Homo sapiens: one gene and its partners. The protein of the gene in region 4 purifies or fractionates together with the protein of the main gene of each other region. This does not show direct contact. Each region holds a gene or a part of one and is shown on either strand. Other genes may lie near its edges.

What was found. Proteins that work in one complex are often made in the same cells at the same time.
Region 1: the proteins of PCDHGB5 (region 4) and MYOF purify together in Homo sapiens (co-immunoprecipitation; one large-scale study listed by IntAct). This does not show direct contact.
Region 2: the proteins of PCDHGB5 (region 4) and POM121C purify together in Homo sapiens (affinity purification with mass spectrometry, with the first as the bait; one large-scale study listed by BioGRID). This does not show direct contact.
Region 3: the proteins of PCDHGB5 (region 4) and DHRS7 purify together in Homo sapiens (co-immunoprecipitation; 2 studies listed by BioGRID and IntAct, with this or other methods). This does not show direct contact.

What each region holds. Positions count from the first base shown.
Region 1 is NC_000010.11:93,346,335-93,349,834, reverse strand, and holds part of MYOF (myoferlin), read left to right. Parts: coding exon 1-27; intron 28-2,052; coding exon 2,053-2,218; intron 2,219-3,500. UniProt on the Homo sapiens protein: Calcium/phospholipid-binding protein that plays a role in the plasmalemma repair mechanism of endothelial cells that permits rapid resealing of membranes disrupted by mechanical stress. Involved in endocytic recycling.
Region 2 is NC_000007.14:75,423,800-75,427,299, reverse strand, and holds part of POM121C (nuclear envelope pore membrane protein POM 121C), read left to right. Parts: intron 1-846; coding exon 847-938; intron 939-1,591; coding exon 1,592-1,665; intron 1,666-2,104; coding exon 2,105-2,226; intron 2,227-2,671; coding exon 2,672-2,774; intron 2,775-3,074; coding exon 3,075-3,251; intron 3,252-3,500. UniProt on the Homo sapiens protein: Essential component of the nuclear pore complex (NPC). The repeat-containing domain may be involved in anchoring components of the pore complex to the pore membrane. When overexpressed in cells induces the formation of cytoplasmic annulate lamellae (AL).
Region 3 is NC_000014.9:60,158,899-60,162,398, reverse strand, and holds part of DHRS7 (dehydrogenase/reductase SDR family member 7 isoform 1 precursor), read left to right. Parts: intron 1-3,500. UniProt on the Homo sapiens protein: NADPH-dependent oxidoreductase which catalyzes the reduction of a variety of compounds bearing carbonyl groups including steroids, retinoids and xenobiotics.
Region 4 is NC_000005.10:141,396,723-141,400,746, forward strand, and holds the start of PCDHGB5 (protocadherin gamma-B5 isoform 1 precursor), read left to right. Parts: upstream 1-1,224; 5' UTR 1,225-1,405; coding exon 1,406-3,802; coding exon of another isoform or gene 3,803-3,862; intron 3,863-4,024. UniProt on the Homo sapiens protein: Potential calcium-dependent cell-adhesion protein. May be involved in the establishment and maintenance of specific neuronal connections in the brain.

The sequences.
Region 1 (3,500 bases), on a different chromosome or scaffold from region 4:
CCAAGTTCTGTTCTCTTCATGAAAGTGGTACAGTATCGATTCTCTGTGATCACCCATGCGCGTTGAAATATGAAAGTATGTGCCTCACACACACACACACAAACACAGAGTTTATTTCCAAAACCTGACAAATAGAAAAACCCTGCCTTATATTCAGCTTGTCAGTGACTTTTTCCCCTTAAATTCTCCCACTGTAGTGATGATTTCTTAAAGCTTCAAAATAACTCCAGTGGCACAGAAATATCTGTGAGCAATACTTACTTATTTCTCCAGTAAACTTTCCATCTATTCAGCTATCTATTACAAGCTGTTGGTCAACCCCATGAAGGCAGAATATTAACCCCCAGTCATGCATGGACCAGATATACCCCCTACAACTGTGCATGGACCAGAACCTTCTGGATAAGGACTGGCTGTCTGGGGAAGGGGCAGCTGTGGGGGAAGGTATATGGGGTGATAGGGCCATGACCTTGGCAGCCCATAACTGTGCCCCACCTCCAGGTGCCCCTGGGATGGCACCTTCTTTGGTCCATTGAGGCTACCCTCTGGTTGTTAAAGATGTGAGAGCATCAGATCCAGTTCACAGCTCTCCATCACAGACCCCATAATACCTGGGGTGAGAAGAGGCCACCCAGTCTTTCCATTTTTAAAGCAGTTAATTTCTTAACTTTAAAAAAAAAATCTTTCTTTTTTACTCTATTATATAAATAGGTGACATAAAGACAGTTTCTTACCTTGAAGTGTTGGAAGACCTAGAACCTTCCTTTCCCCACCCCAGTCATTTTCCTGACCTTGATGTCTCCAATACAGTGCTCTTGAACTCTAGGGTCACGTGCTTTAACCTCTTATTTTACATTACAGAGGAGGAAACTGAGGCCTAAAGAGGGGAAATGATTTATCCAGTGTCATAGTGTTAGGCCACACCTTCTATACCACAGTGACTATGTCCTAACTAGTGACAGCTGCAGTGTAGGGCTTGGTGCATTCTTACTTGGTACACCTCGTCTTTAATCCTGCGGGGTGAACATTTTCACCTCTCTTATGCCCACCTTGGGGAAAAGCAAGAGGTAACAGATTTACACAAGGGGATGTCGCTAGCAAGTGAGTGGCCAGAGTTTGCACATAGGTCCTTACAACCCCAATGCCCATGCTCCCCTCCCTATCATGCGACAGACGGCGAGCCACCGGGATGCTGCCAGCCAGGGTCCCAAAGTGGTTGTCCCTGGGCCACTCCACCTATCCTTGTCTACTCCCCACACCTCCCTCACCTTCCAAGTTCTAGTCTGGAATCTAGCCTTGGTCAGCAGAGATGAGAAAAACCACTCAGGTGACCCCAGTTTCTATTCCTGTGTCAAGCCAGAGATAGAAATTCACCTGAACCACATACCAAATGGGCCCCTAGGTCAGCTCATGATTCCCCAATCAGGCATTGTCACCAAAGCCACCAAATTCCATGAGAGGGAGCCAGGGGGAGTTGAGGAGAAAGTAGCAATCCATTTTTACACTGAATTTCCAGGGCAAAGAGACTCTCAGCCACAGTTATTTCCCTTAGAAGTTCAGTTTTGTCTTGACCATTTCTAAAGTCTGCTCAGAACTTGGCTAGTAGATGACCAAAGCCCTGGGCTAGTTAGCCTTGTGCATGTCCCCTCCCAGGAAGCAGAGCACAGGGAAGAGTATAGGGCAGTGACTGAGAGTAAAGAGCATGGGTCAGTGATTCCACACTTACAGGACACAGCATGGGTCAGGTACTATTCTAAGTACTCTTCACATAGAGTAATTCAACAATGTTACTATTACTCATGAAATAATGGGGGCATGGAAGGGTTAGCCAGGTAGTTCATGGTGGCAGTGCCAGGATTTGACCCAGGCAGTCTGGCTGACAGCTCACGCTCTTAAGCACGGAGCTCCTTGCCTGGCACATGAGTAACTGAACTATTGCGAGTCCTCTGGGCTGTGTGGCAGAGAGAATCTGGACTGGTCCATCTGGGGAATTTTTCTCAAAGCTGCCCTCGTCTGGTCTTGAGAAATGAAACCTACCTTTGTGACCCCCAGTTCTTGCCCAAGGAGGAATTGTACATGCCCCCACTGGTGATCAAGGTCATCGACCACAGGCAGTTTGGGCGGAAGCCTGTCGTCGGCCAGTGCACCATCGAGCGCCTGGACCGCTTTCGCTGTGACCCTTATGCAGGGAAAGAGGACATCGTCCCACAGCTCAAAGGTAACATGCAAGGCTGTGCATAAGTCTGGGGGCTTTTCTTTTTTTTTTTTTTTTTTTTGAGACGGAGTCTCGCTCTGTCGCCCAGGCCGGACTGCGGACTGCAGTGGCGCAATCTCGGCTCACTGCAAGCTCCGCTTCCCGGGTTCACGCCATTCTCCTGCCTCAGCCTCCCGAGTAGCTGGGACTACAGGCGCCCGCCACCGCGCCCGGCTAATTTTTTGTATTTTTAGTAGAGACGGGGTTTCACCTTGTTAGCCAGGATGGTCTCGATCTCCTGACCTCATGATCCACCCGCCTCGGCCTCCCAAAGTGCTGGGATTACAGGCGTGAGCCACCGCGCCCGGCCGTCTGGGGACTTTTCATGCATGGCTCTGATTTACTCTTTACAAACCTACTCAAGGTAAGTCCTGGATTCATTGTCTACATTTTACGGATGAGCAAACTGCGTGAGTTGCGGTGGGTTATGGCACTTTCCTAAGGTTCTATCATTCGTAAGTGGCAGAGCTGGGCTGGAATCTCGGCCTTGTTTTAGGGGTGGGTGGCATGCTCGAGGGATTCCTCTCTGAAGCGTCCTGCTCCTGGGTGAATGTAAGACTTCTTTTGAGGAAGTGTTAAGTGCTCATGAATGTTCCCTATTCACCTTTCAACAAGCAGCTTGCAAAGCAGGGAGAGCTGTTCCCACATCAGTGATGGGGATGAAGTCATTTCCTCTGCCTTTCACTGAATGGTTAGGAAGCACTCACTGACTGCCACGTGCTGTTCTAGATATCTGGGGACAGTGGGGACCAAGAAAGGCATGTTCCCCTCTCACAAAGCAAAAGTCCAGCAGGGAAGGCAAACGAGGAAGTGTGCAGTTGCAGTCCAGTGTGATAAATATCTTGATGGGGAAAACAGGAAGCTCCCTGACCCCATGAACACTGAGAGAGGAGGAGATTTTATTTCAGATTGCTTTCCACCTGTTGGCCTACCTCATTATCACATATAATTAATATGTAAATGATAGAGCAGGGCATAATACTTACTTTAGATTTCCATAATAAATAATAGCTAGTGATACAGCATTTTGCAATTACCCATTCAATAGTTACTTGCTTTTAGCTTACCATGTGCTAGGGACTGTGTTAGGGGCTGGGGGCTACATTGCATCAGTGCAAGAGATCCCAGGGCCCCTGGCCTCATAAATTAGACACCGTGGGAGGGCTGGAACAGCCTCATTCGGCTGATCCTTGGTGGCTTCAAGACTGAAGCAGATGTCTTCTATTTAAGCAGCTGTGTCACTAAC
Region 2 (3,500 bases), on a different chromosome or scaffold from region 4:
CCACGCCCAGCTAATTTTTTGTATTTTTTTGTATTTTTAGTAGAGATGGGATTTCACTGTGTTAGCCAAGATGGTCTCCATCTCCTGACCTCGTGATCCACCCCCCTTGGCCTCCCAAAGTGCTGGGATTACAGGCGTGAGCCACCACGCCTGGCCATGACAGCGTATTTTTAAAATGAAGTTACTAAATGAAAAATCGAAAATTTAATGGAAGCAAGACTAAATTAGTTTACTGGGTTGTCTTCTTTAATTTACTTGTATCCTTTCCGTAGACAGTCTGGCACAGGTTTGAATGTGTCCTGGCTCTTCATTACTGAGGCTAATATATGCAAAAGTGTGTCCATCCCTTCTACCTTTATTCACATTCCATTACTTTTATAGACTTTTCTTTTTTTGCTTTCATAATTAATACTGGCAGTTGACTTTCTTTTCAGGGGTCTTTCTTCACAAACAAATTTTTTTCATTTTCATTTTCTATTTTTTTTTTTTTTTTTTTTTTTTTGAGACAGGGTCTCACTCTGTCACCCAGGCTGGAGTGCAGTGGGGCAATCTCAGCTCACTGCAGCCTCCTGAGTAGTTGGGACCACAGATGCAAACCACCACACCCAACTGATTTTTCAATTTTTTGTAGAGACGGGGGTCTCGCTATGTTACCCAGGCTGGTCTCAAACTCCTGGGCTCAAGCAATCCTCCCACCTTGGCCTCCCAGCATGCTGGGATTACAGGCATGACTAACCATTTAACCATAAAAAATATTTTTTTAGTCACTTAAAAAGAGACTTTGTCATGTTGAGGGTCAGATGCTAAGTTATCAGCAGGCTCAGTCATGTCCCTCTTGATTTTTAGCTGTGGAAGAGAAATGGCCCCAGTTCATCACCCTTCTCTAGCCCAGCCTCATCCCGCTCCCAGACACCGGAGAGGCCAGCAAAGAAAATAAGGTATTCGGCATTCTCCTGCAGTTTTCATTTGCTACGTGGACAGAAGGGGGTGAGGAAAGGTGGGAAACGAACCTGGCTCTTAGGCTTTGTGCTGCTGTGACTTGGAGAATCAAAGAAACTAAGTCCCTGAGAGGGACAATGCAGCACCCACCTGAACAACTATCATCCCTACAGTCTTGGATACTGACTCCAGTGGCCTCTGGCTGTCGCCTCCCACTCCAGCATGAGGGATCGGGTGCAAGCACAGAGGCCATGCAGAGTGGAGAGCAGAGAGAGTCAAGTCAGCGGGCAGTCGCCTTCAGGTTCTTGACTCGAGCTGATCCCCTAGGTGCTTGCAGTTGGCTGGAATGCCACTCCCTCAGGGATCACATCTGTGTCTAGAACTCCCAGGGACTTGGTAGGTTGTAAGTAAGGTTTGAAGATTATTGTTTTGTGCTTGTTTTAAGACAAAAACTGTCTTCATGGCCTCTGTGAACAGCCTCCCTTCATTCTGTTGGAATTTCCTGTTGACTTTTTTTATCCTGGCATACTGAGATCTTAAATGATGGTTGTTTTAGATGTTGGCCACTTGGTAGTTAGGAGGGTGTGAGAAATTATTTAATACTTCAGCCAAGAAGTCTTTCTAGACTAAATTGTTCCTTTTTTCCCAACAGAGAAGAAGAGCTGTGTCATCATTCCAGTTCTTCAACTCCATTGGCAGCAGACAAGGAGTCCCAGGGAGAAAAGGGTAGGTTGCTGAGCCAGGAGGAGGGGCTGCTGTTGGTGGTGGAGGTATTTGTGGAGGATGTAGAGATTAATACCTATTGAAAAAAGGTCTTGAGCATTGCTATGTCTAAGGCATGTTAGATACAAAGAGAGAGATTTCCTCTCCTTCAGAAGTTTATAGTCTGATGAGGGAGAAAGGCTACAGATGGGGGCTAACGATTGGATAGAGGTAAGCTCAGTTTGAGTCACCTGTGGGTGATCCCAGTAATTACTGCACAGTAAGCGGTTTGTGTGCGCGCCTTAATCTTACAAACACCATCCAAGCAACCAAACCATAGAAGATTGAATCTTTTCAGAGATACCATCATTGAAAACTCAGTGTGAAATGCGAAGTGGGTAGACACAACCATCCATTTCTGGAAGAGGGAAGGAAGCAAACGAGTCTTGATTTCTTTCTTTAGCTGCAGATACAACCCCAAGGAAGAAACAAAACTCGAATTCTCAGTCTACACCTGGCAGCTCTGGGCAGCGTAAGCGGAAAGTTCAGCTGCTGCCTTCTCGGCGAGGGGAACAGCTGACCTTGGTATGGTCTTGTCCATCTACTCCTGCCCTCCCCGGCTTAGCTCTCCTAAGTCTTAGGAACGCTAAGGACAAGTTTCTTCTGTTTTTTTTTCTAACTTATTTTTGTTTTTGTTTTTTGAGACAACATCCCTCTGTCACCCAGGCTGGAGTTCAGTGGCTCGATTTTGGCTAACCGTAACCTCTGCCTCCTGAGTTCAAGCAATTCTCCTGCCTCAGCCTCCCAAGTAGCTGGGATTACAGGCGCTTGCTACCACGCCTGACTAATTTTTTGTATTTTTAGTAGAGATGGGGTTTCACCATGTTGGCCAGGCCAGCCTCAAACTCCTGACCTCAAGTGATCCAGCTGGCTTGGCCTCCCAGAGTGCTGAGATTACCGGCGTTAGCCACCACGCCCAGCCTTCCCGTTTTTTCTGATTGGCCTGACTTCTTCTTTTTCTCTTTGGTAGCCTCCACCTCCCCAGCTTGGCTATTCGATCACTGCCGAGGACCTAGACTTAGAGAAGAAGGCTTCATTACAGTGGTTCAACCAGGCCTTGGAGGACAAGAGTGGTAAGGAGCACAGATCGTTGCACTCTCGAGAGGTTTCAGGTGTCTGTTTTCTTTGGTTTTATTTTGGTGTTTGGAAAAATGGGTTTCTCTGGGAAAATCCGAAGTAGAGTTCCATGTTTTCTTGTGGTCTTTCTCACCTGAGATATCCGTGTTGGTCTTCACGGGAACTGGACAGCAGGGACTACTGCAATTTAGGGCAGACATTCCTCCATGAGCTGTGCTGAGAGCCTGCTCTCCGACAGGCATGTGGAAAGAAGTCCCAGACAAGCCAGGACTGCTTCACCTTTCTTTCTTTCTTAGATGCTGCCTCGAACTCTGTCACTGAGACCCCACCTACCACTCAGCCTTCATTTACCTTTACCCTGCCTGCTGCTGCAACTGCCTCCCCACCCACCTCCCTCCTGGCCCCAAGCACCAACCCACTGTTAGAGAGCTTGAAGAAGATGCAGACTCCCCCGAGCCTGCCACCCTGCCCAGGTGAGCTGGAGTGGGGCCGTGGATCCAGCCTTCTGAGCAGCATCCCCGGCTTGGGTTGGAATAAGGGCGTCGTGCCTGTCAGTCGCTGGAGATTGCTCTGCAGGCCGAACGCACCCTGGCTCAGCACACCGGAGCGGGCCTACGTTTAACAGCGCCGGAGCCCACATCAGGAAGTGTTAGAGAAGGGGTGCTGCGACGCTCAGGATCTGAAGCCTGGCTTAGCTGCCCTGAGCCTCGCCTTCCTCATTT
Region 3 (3,500 bases), on a different chromosome or scaffold from region 4:
GGTGATTTTTTTTTTTTTTTAATAGAGAGACAAGGTCTTGCTTTGTCACCCAGCCTGGAGTGCAGTGGCATGATCATAGCTCACTGCAGCCTCGAACTCCTGGGCTCAGGCAATCCTCCCACCTCAGCCTCCCCAGTAGCTAGGACTACAGGTGCAAACCACCACACCTGGATATTTTTAAACTTTTTGTAGAAACAGGCTCTCACTATGTTCCAGGCTGGTCTTGAACTCCTGGCCTCAAGTGATCCTTCCACCTTGGCCTCTCAAAGTGCTAGGATAACAGATGTGAACTGCCAAGCCCAGCCACATATGGTGAAATTTAAGGGTGACTAATTTTAGACATTAAAATGGTCCAGAAAAATCCATGGCACAAGTCTAGAGGAGGAAAAATTTCAACAGCAGCACATGTGAGCAAAACTCAGGTTTTTGTTAACAGTAACCTCAATAGGAGTCAACTGTGAAGTGGCTGCCAGAAAAGATCAGGCAACCTTGGGTTGCATTTGTAGACCTCAGTGTCTGAAGCAACAACTGCAAACAACAGATGTCTCCTGACTAGCTGCTTGTATGTGCCGGCCTCTGTGCTGGGGCACTGGGGACACTGCAGTGACTGAATCAGCCACAGTCCAGGCCCTCATAGACCCTACCTTCTGGGGGACAAGGGAAGTGATTTTTGACATCTCATCCTGCTCTGCACTGTCCAGACCCTACCGAATCCTGTGTCCTGCCCTAGCCAGCTCCCTTTAATAAAGAGGAACATTAACCAACTAGAATTGGTGCAGGTGGGTGTGAGCAGAAGAGTGAGGAAACCTGATACCATGTCATGTGAGGGAAGGTGGCAGAAATTGGATAGGTTTATTTAGCCTTAGAGAAGGTAAGAGATGAAAGGACTTAGGGAAGACATAATGGCTGTCTTCCCTAACAGCTGTGAGGGATTGTCATTTAGAAGACAGGTTTCATTTCTTTTCTTTTCTTCCTGAAACAGCTTTTTGTAAAACAAGAAAGCAGAATTGCAACACAATTTAAATGTCTGTCTAGGTCACAAAAGGGATGCAAAATGTTTGTAATATGATTAGTATGTATTCATATAGTGAGTCATTCTTACACCTATACATAAGATTATTCCATGATTAAAGGTAGCCCAGCTCTAATAACCATAAGCTATATTAGTGGATCCCTTTTCCTATTATAACATTTTAGTATTACTTCTGATATTGATTCCCTTAACAAATGGAGTCTACAAACTGAATTTTAAAAAATTGTTAAAAGTGACTAAAACTCTGTAAACAGAGGAGTTGAGTTTACAAAAAATTCTGGGAGAACAAGCAGGATAAAACTGAGCAAGATTATCAATAAGTGTACATCTGAAACTCCCATTTTTCACAGTTCTGATACTAATACATTCTTAAGGAATTTTGCAAAAGTTAATCTGCTGAGTAGAAATATACCTTGAGACCAAACTCTTTGTAACTGTTCTCTTCCAGATGTGGTACATAAGATTAGTCAAAGTTGGCCAGATGCGGTAGCTCACGCCTGTAATCCCAGCACTTTGGGAGGCTGAGGTGGGCAAATCGCTAGAGCTCACAAGTTCGAGACCAGCCTAGGCAACATGGCAAAACCTCATATCTACAAAAAAATACACACAAAAAAATTAGCCGGGCATGATGGTACACGCCTGTAGTCCCAGCTACTTGGGAGGCTGAGGTGGGAGGTTGGCTTGAGCCTGAGCCGTGGAGGTTGCAGGGAGCCAAGATCATGCCACTGCACTCCAGCTTGGGTGACAGAGCCAGGCCTTGTCCCCTCCCCCCGTCCCCCCGCCAAAAAACAGGTTAGTCGAGCTTAATCTACTCTCATATATTTCCCAAAAGATCTACTCTGTGCCAGAGATAACAAAAATCTGGAGTGAAAATATTTGGAGTTGGTTACTAGTATTTTCCCAAGTACTTTTCCATCCTATTTCTATTTTCCCTTAAGCTTTTCTATTTTAAACACACACGACCATAATTTATATCTTTTCAGATACAAAGTAGGTAATTTTGTAAAAAAAAAAAAAAAAAAGAAGTTTTTTTTTTGTTTTTTGTTTTTTGAGATAGAGTCTCACTTTGTTGCCCAGGCTGGAGTGCAGGCTCACTGCAAACCCCACCTCCTAGAGGTTCAAGCAATTCTCCCTGCCTCAGCCTCCCAAGTAGCTGGGATTACAGGCACCCACCACCACGCCCAGCTAATTTTTGTATTTTTAGTAGAGATGGGGTTTCGCCATGTTGGCCAGGCTGGGCTTGAACTCCTGATCTCAGGTGATCCTCCTGCCTCGGCCTCCCAAAGTGCTGGGATTACAGGCGTGAGCCACTGTACCTGGCCAAAAAGAAGTTTTTGACAACAAAAAATTATCTTCCCAGATTGACAATTCAGTTTCAATGAAAAATCTTCATTTTTATAGTCTCTTTTTGTTTTCAATTGATTAAAGAGAAACCAGCAATTCTATCTTAGTATTAAATATCACAAATGAGAAGCTCTAGCTGAGAAAATGTCTTCATTTGGTTAAGTTTTGACAATTAAAGTTCAGGTTACTCTCAGAGATGATTAAGTATTAAAATTGCTTTTACAAATATGAAACCAGTTTTTCCCTGGGGGAGGGGAGATAGGAAGGAAGAAGCCAGTGGAGAAGGGGCCCAAGAAGATGGATAGGGTACATGAATCTGTGCAGTCAGTACCTGATTGGGGTCACTTTTTCACAGCATGATGGTTATTTTCTTGTATATCTTACTAAGCCTATAATAAAAGACAGGGCTAAACCCACAAATCAGAGCAAATTTGATAAAACATTCATCTTAAGTTTCATAAATATGTGCTATTCTAAATTAAGTTTCCAATACATTTGCACATTCTCATAGACTAACATAATACACAAACTTATGGAAGTTTCCTGTTATGCTATGAATGTTGCCTACATCTGACATTAGCTTCATAAATATTCAATGAAACCACAAACAAAGGTACTATCACTTTTGAAATCTGTCCAACATATAAAGAAAGGTCAGCAGCAATTCCATAAAACAGAAGGGCTTCAATTCTGTATTTTCTTTTGCTTTTTGTGTCAGTTGTTTGAAAAACACTAGAAGCTGACATGAAATTTTCTGTGTATTGTCTAAGAAACTTGGTTTTCTGATTTTAGCTTGAGATTTTCTTCCGTAACCGCATCTCCTCTGACAGGGAGATCTTGAAGTGTATGTTGGGGTTCCAACACTTGATTAATAAGCTGTGTTTTTCCCTCCAATTCCAAATGATTTTCAGCATCAACTGCATCCATGTCAATATTTGTCGTCTTGGGTAACAAACTTTTGGGCCTTGGATACAAAATCCTTGATGAATGTTTGAGGTGCTGGGAGAGGAAGGGATGGGGAGGATGCCTCAGGCTGGACACTTGGACCCACCGACACCAGAAGTTTGATTTCTTCTTTGTCAAACCACAAGGCAGGATTACTGCCCACTGCTACTGGTTGATA
Region 4 (4,024 bases):
AATTGATTGTTGTAAGGTAGAAGTAGATGACCCAATAAATGTTTGTTATTAATGAAAAGGACATTTCCTAAGGATTGTGTAGTGTTCTACTGTATGGTGCATATTCAGTGGAGTGGGAGTTAACTTCATAGTTTGTGTACCATTTGGATGCACATTTGAGAGGACAACATATTATTGGCACTTTGCAATTTTAAAAACTCGGATGAAAGTTGCCCTGGTAGGAAAGAAAATCCTTACTCTCCCTAAAAATGTTGGCTAGTTGTTTTTATTAATCTGACAAATGGACTAAAGAAGGTTGACCAATGTCCACAAATTTATGTAAATGAACTTATGAGCTTCATTTATCCAATTCCAAAGTCATTTCAGATAGGATAATAATGCAATCCACTAGAATATCCCTTTGTACCTTGTATTGCAGAATAGATAAGCATTTCCCCAATAACTCTTAAGAATGAATTTATGTACTGTAAAAGATATGACATAAGAGAAGTATTTTGAGATATGAAGAAGAGCAACGTAGTAGGGTATATCATTTCTTAGCTACATCATATGGGCAGTATACTTGAATGAATATTTCCTGAAGTAGAAGAGTAAAGAAAAATTATTTTTATAAAGAATGTTAATATAGTCAGGAAGAGGAGATGTTTGGGGATTGGTATAAAATTGCCACAACTTTACAAAATAGTTTTAAATAGTATAGATTTCCCTAATATGTGTAATATAAAACACTAGAAATATTGGGGAGTTGGAAATCATAGAAATGAACAGAAGAATGATAAAATTGTTTCCATAGCTAATAAAAAATGAATTTTTGAAATCAGTATAGTATGAAGGCTCTGAGAGCAAGAACTGTATCATATTAATTATTATATTGCCAGTGACAAGGGCAATACTTAGTTCTAGCTAAGAGTTCAAGGTATGTTTGCAGAATGGTGAAAGAATGGACCAATGTATGCAGGTTTGTATAAAAACCCAACGTGATATTTCTAACAATTTGGAAAACAGAGAAAGATACCTTAAAGAAGTTGTTATAATTTTTTATTAAGTATATGGACGTAAAAACTTGGCTTGTTAAGTTAGGCACACAAAAACAATTACTGCACTGGTTAACTTGAAGCCGCAGAGGCTGTAGTTTCCTAGTGCTGACTCTGGGCGCCGCTGTTGGCCAAAGTGCAGAGCTTGGCGCTCCAGATCTCCTCGCGCAGCCGCAGCGCGCTTTCCAGGGCAGCCCCAGCTCAGACTCCCCAGCGCCGGCCTTTACACCGCTTCCTCCTCGGAAAAAGAATCGTTTCCTAAACTGGAACTGGAACTAAAGCCCGTTCGGAGATCCAAAAATCTACAATACAGAGGTTATTTGTAACCTGGCGTCTCCAGGCTGGTGAGCAAGCTGAGGAGAGCAAGAGGGATGGGGAGCGGCGCCGGGGAGCTGGGCCGGGCTGAGAGGCTGCCAGTGCTCTTTCTCTTCCTGCTGTCTTTGTTCTGCCCGGCGCTCTGTGAGCAGATCCGCTACAGGATTCCCGAGGAAATGCCCAAGGGCTCCGTAGTGGGGAACCTCGCCACGGACCTGGGGTTCAGCGTCCAGGAGTTACCGACTCGAAAACTGCGCGTCAGTTCGGAGAAGCCTTACTTCACCGTGAGCGCAGAGAGCGGGGAGTTGCTTGTGAGCAGCAGGCTAGACAGGGAGGAGATATGCGGGAAGAAGCCAGCTTGTGCTCTGGAATTTGAGGCTGTTGCTGAAAATCCACTGAACTTTTATCACGTGAATGTGGAGATCGAGGACATTAATGACCACACGCCAAAATTCACGCAAAATTCCTTTGAGCTGCAAATAAGTGAGTCTGCACAGCCTGGCACAAGATTTATACTAGAAGTAGCAGAAGATGCAGATATTGGCTTAAACTCTCTGCAGAAGTATAAACTCTCTCTTAACCCAAGTTTCTCATTAATAATTAAGGAGAAACAGGATGGTAGTAAATACCCGGAACTGGCACTGGAGAAAACCTTAGACCGGGAACAACAGAGTTACCATCGTTTAGTCCTGACTGCCTTGGACGGTGGACATCCACCCCTAAGCGGCACCACTGAGCTCCGGATCCAGGTAACCGACGCCAATGATAATCCCCCGGTATTCAACCGAGACGTGTACAGAGTCAGCCTTCGGGAAAACGTGCCACCAGGCACCACTGTGTTGCAAGTGTCAGCCACTGACCAAGACGAGGGCATCAACTCAGAAATTACTTATTCCTTCTACAGAACCGGGCAAATCTTTAGTCTGAATTCAAAGAGCGGAGAAATTACCACTCAAAAGAAACTGGATTTTGAAGAGACCAAGGAATATTCAATGGTTGTAGAAGGGAGGGATGGTGGTGGACTGGTTGCACAATGTACAGTTGAAATTAATATTCAAGATGAAAATGACAATAGCCCAGAAGTTACATTCCATTCTCTACTTGAAATGATTCTGGAAAACGCGGTGCCTGGAACACTAATTGCTTTGATCAAAATACATGACCAAGATTCTGGGGAAAATGGGGAGGTTAATTGTCAATTACAAGGCGAAGTCCCTTTTAAGATTATCTCTTCATCCAAAAATTCGTATAAGTTGGTAACAGATGGAACCCTAGACCGAGAGCAAACCCCGGAGTACAATGTCACCATCACAGCCACAGACAGGGGCAAGCCGCCCCTCTCCTCCAGCATAAGCGTCATCCTACATATCAGAGACGTCAACGATAACGCTCCGGTTTTCCACCAGGCGTCCTACTTAGTCAGTGTACCCGAAAACAACCCTCCTGGGGCCTCCATCGCGCAAGTCTGCGCCTCGGACCTGGACTTGGGGTTGAACGGCCAAGTCTCCTACTCTATCATGGCCAGCGACCTAGAGCCTCTGGCACTGGCCTCTTACGTGTCCATGAGCGCGCAAAGTGGGGTGGTGTTCGCGCAGCGCGCCTTTGACTACGAGCAGCTGCGCACCTTCGAACTCACACTACAGGCCCGCGACCAGGGCTCGCCTGCGCTCAGCGCAAACGTGAGCCTGCGCGTGTTGGTGGGCGACCGAAACGACAACGCACCGCGGGTGCTGTACCCCGCGCTGGGTCCCGACGGCTCTGCGCTCTTCGATATGGTGCCGCGCGCTGCAGAGCCCGGCTACCTGGTGACCAAGGTAGTGGCCGTGGACGCAGACTCAGGACACAACGCCTGGCTGTCCTACCACGTGCTGCAGGCTAGCGAGCCCGGGCTCTTCAGCCTGGGGCTGCGCACAGGAGAGGTGCGCACAGCGCGTGCCTTGGGCGACAGGGACGCGGCCCGCCAGCGCCTGCTGGTTGCTGTGCGTGATGGTGGACAGCCGCCACTCTCCGCCACCGCCACGCTGCACTTGGTCTTTGCTGACAGCTTGCAGGAGGTGCTGCCGGATATCACTGACCGCCCTGTACCCTCTGACCCCCAGGCTGAGCTGCAGTTTTACCTAGTGGTGGCCTTGGCCTTGATCTCAGTGCTCTTCCTCCTGGCCGTGATTCTGGCCGTTGCCTTGCGCCTGCGACGCTCCTCCAGCCCTGCCGCCTGGAGCTGCTTCCAACCTGGTCTCTGTGTCAAGTCTGGACCTGTGGTTCCCCCCAACTACAGTCAGGGGACTTTGCCTTATTCCTACAACCTATGTGTTGCACATACAGGAAAGACGGAGTTTAATTTCCTAAAATGTAGTGAGCAATTGAGTTCAGGACAAGACATACTTTGTGGTGATTCATCTGGGGCCTTATTTCCACTTTGTAATTCCAGCGAGTCGACTTCCCATCCTGAGTTGGTGAGTTTCATTTATGTCTATTCTTTTTCATTACCCACCCAATTTTCTGTATTTACATGAAACTATCGTACATTTTCAAGTCCAATGAGTTGTCTTAGGGAAGTCAGAGCTGCTCAGAAAGCTGTCCTACCATTCTTTAAGAGGAGCAGTAAATTGTGAGTTTTTATGTCGCATAAAAGAAGTAGCCTTATAGATTTACAAAGTAGTGAGAGTTTGCTCTTA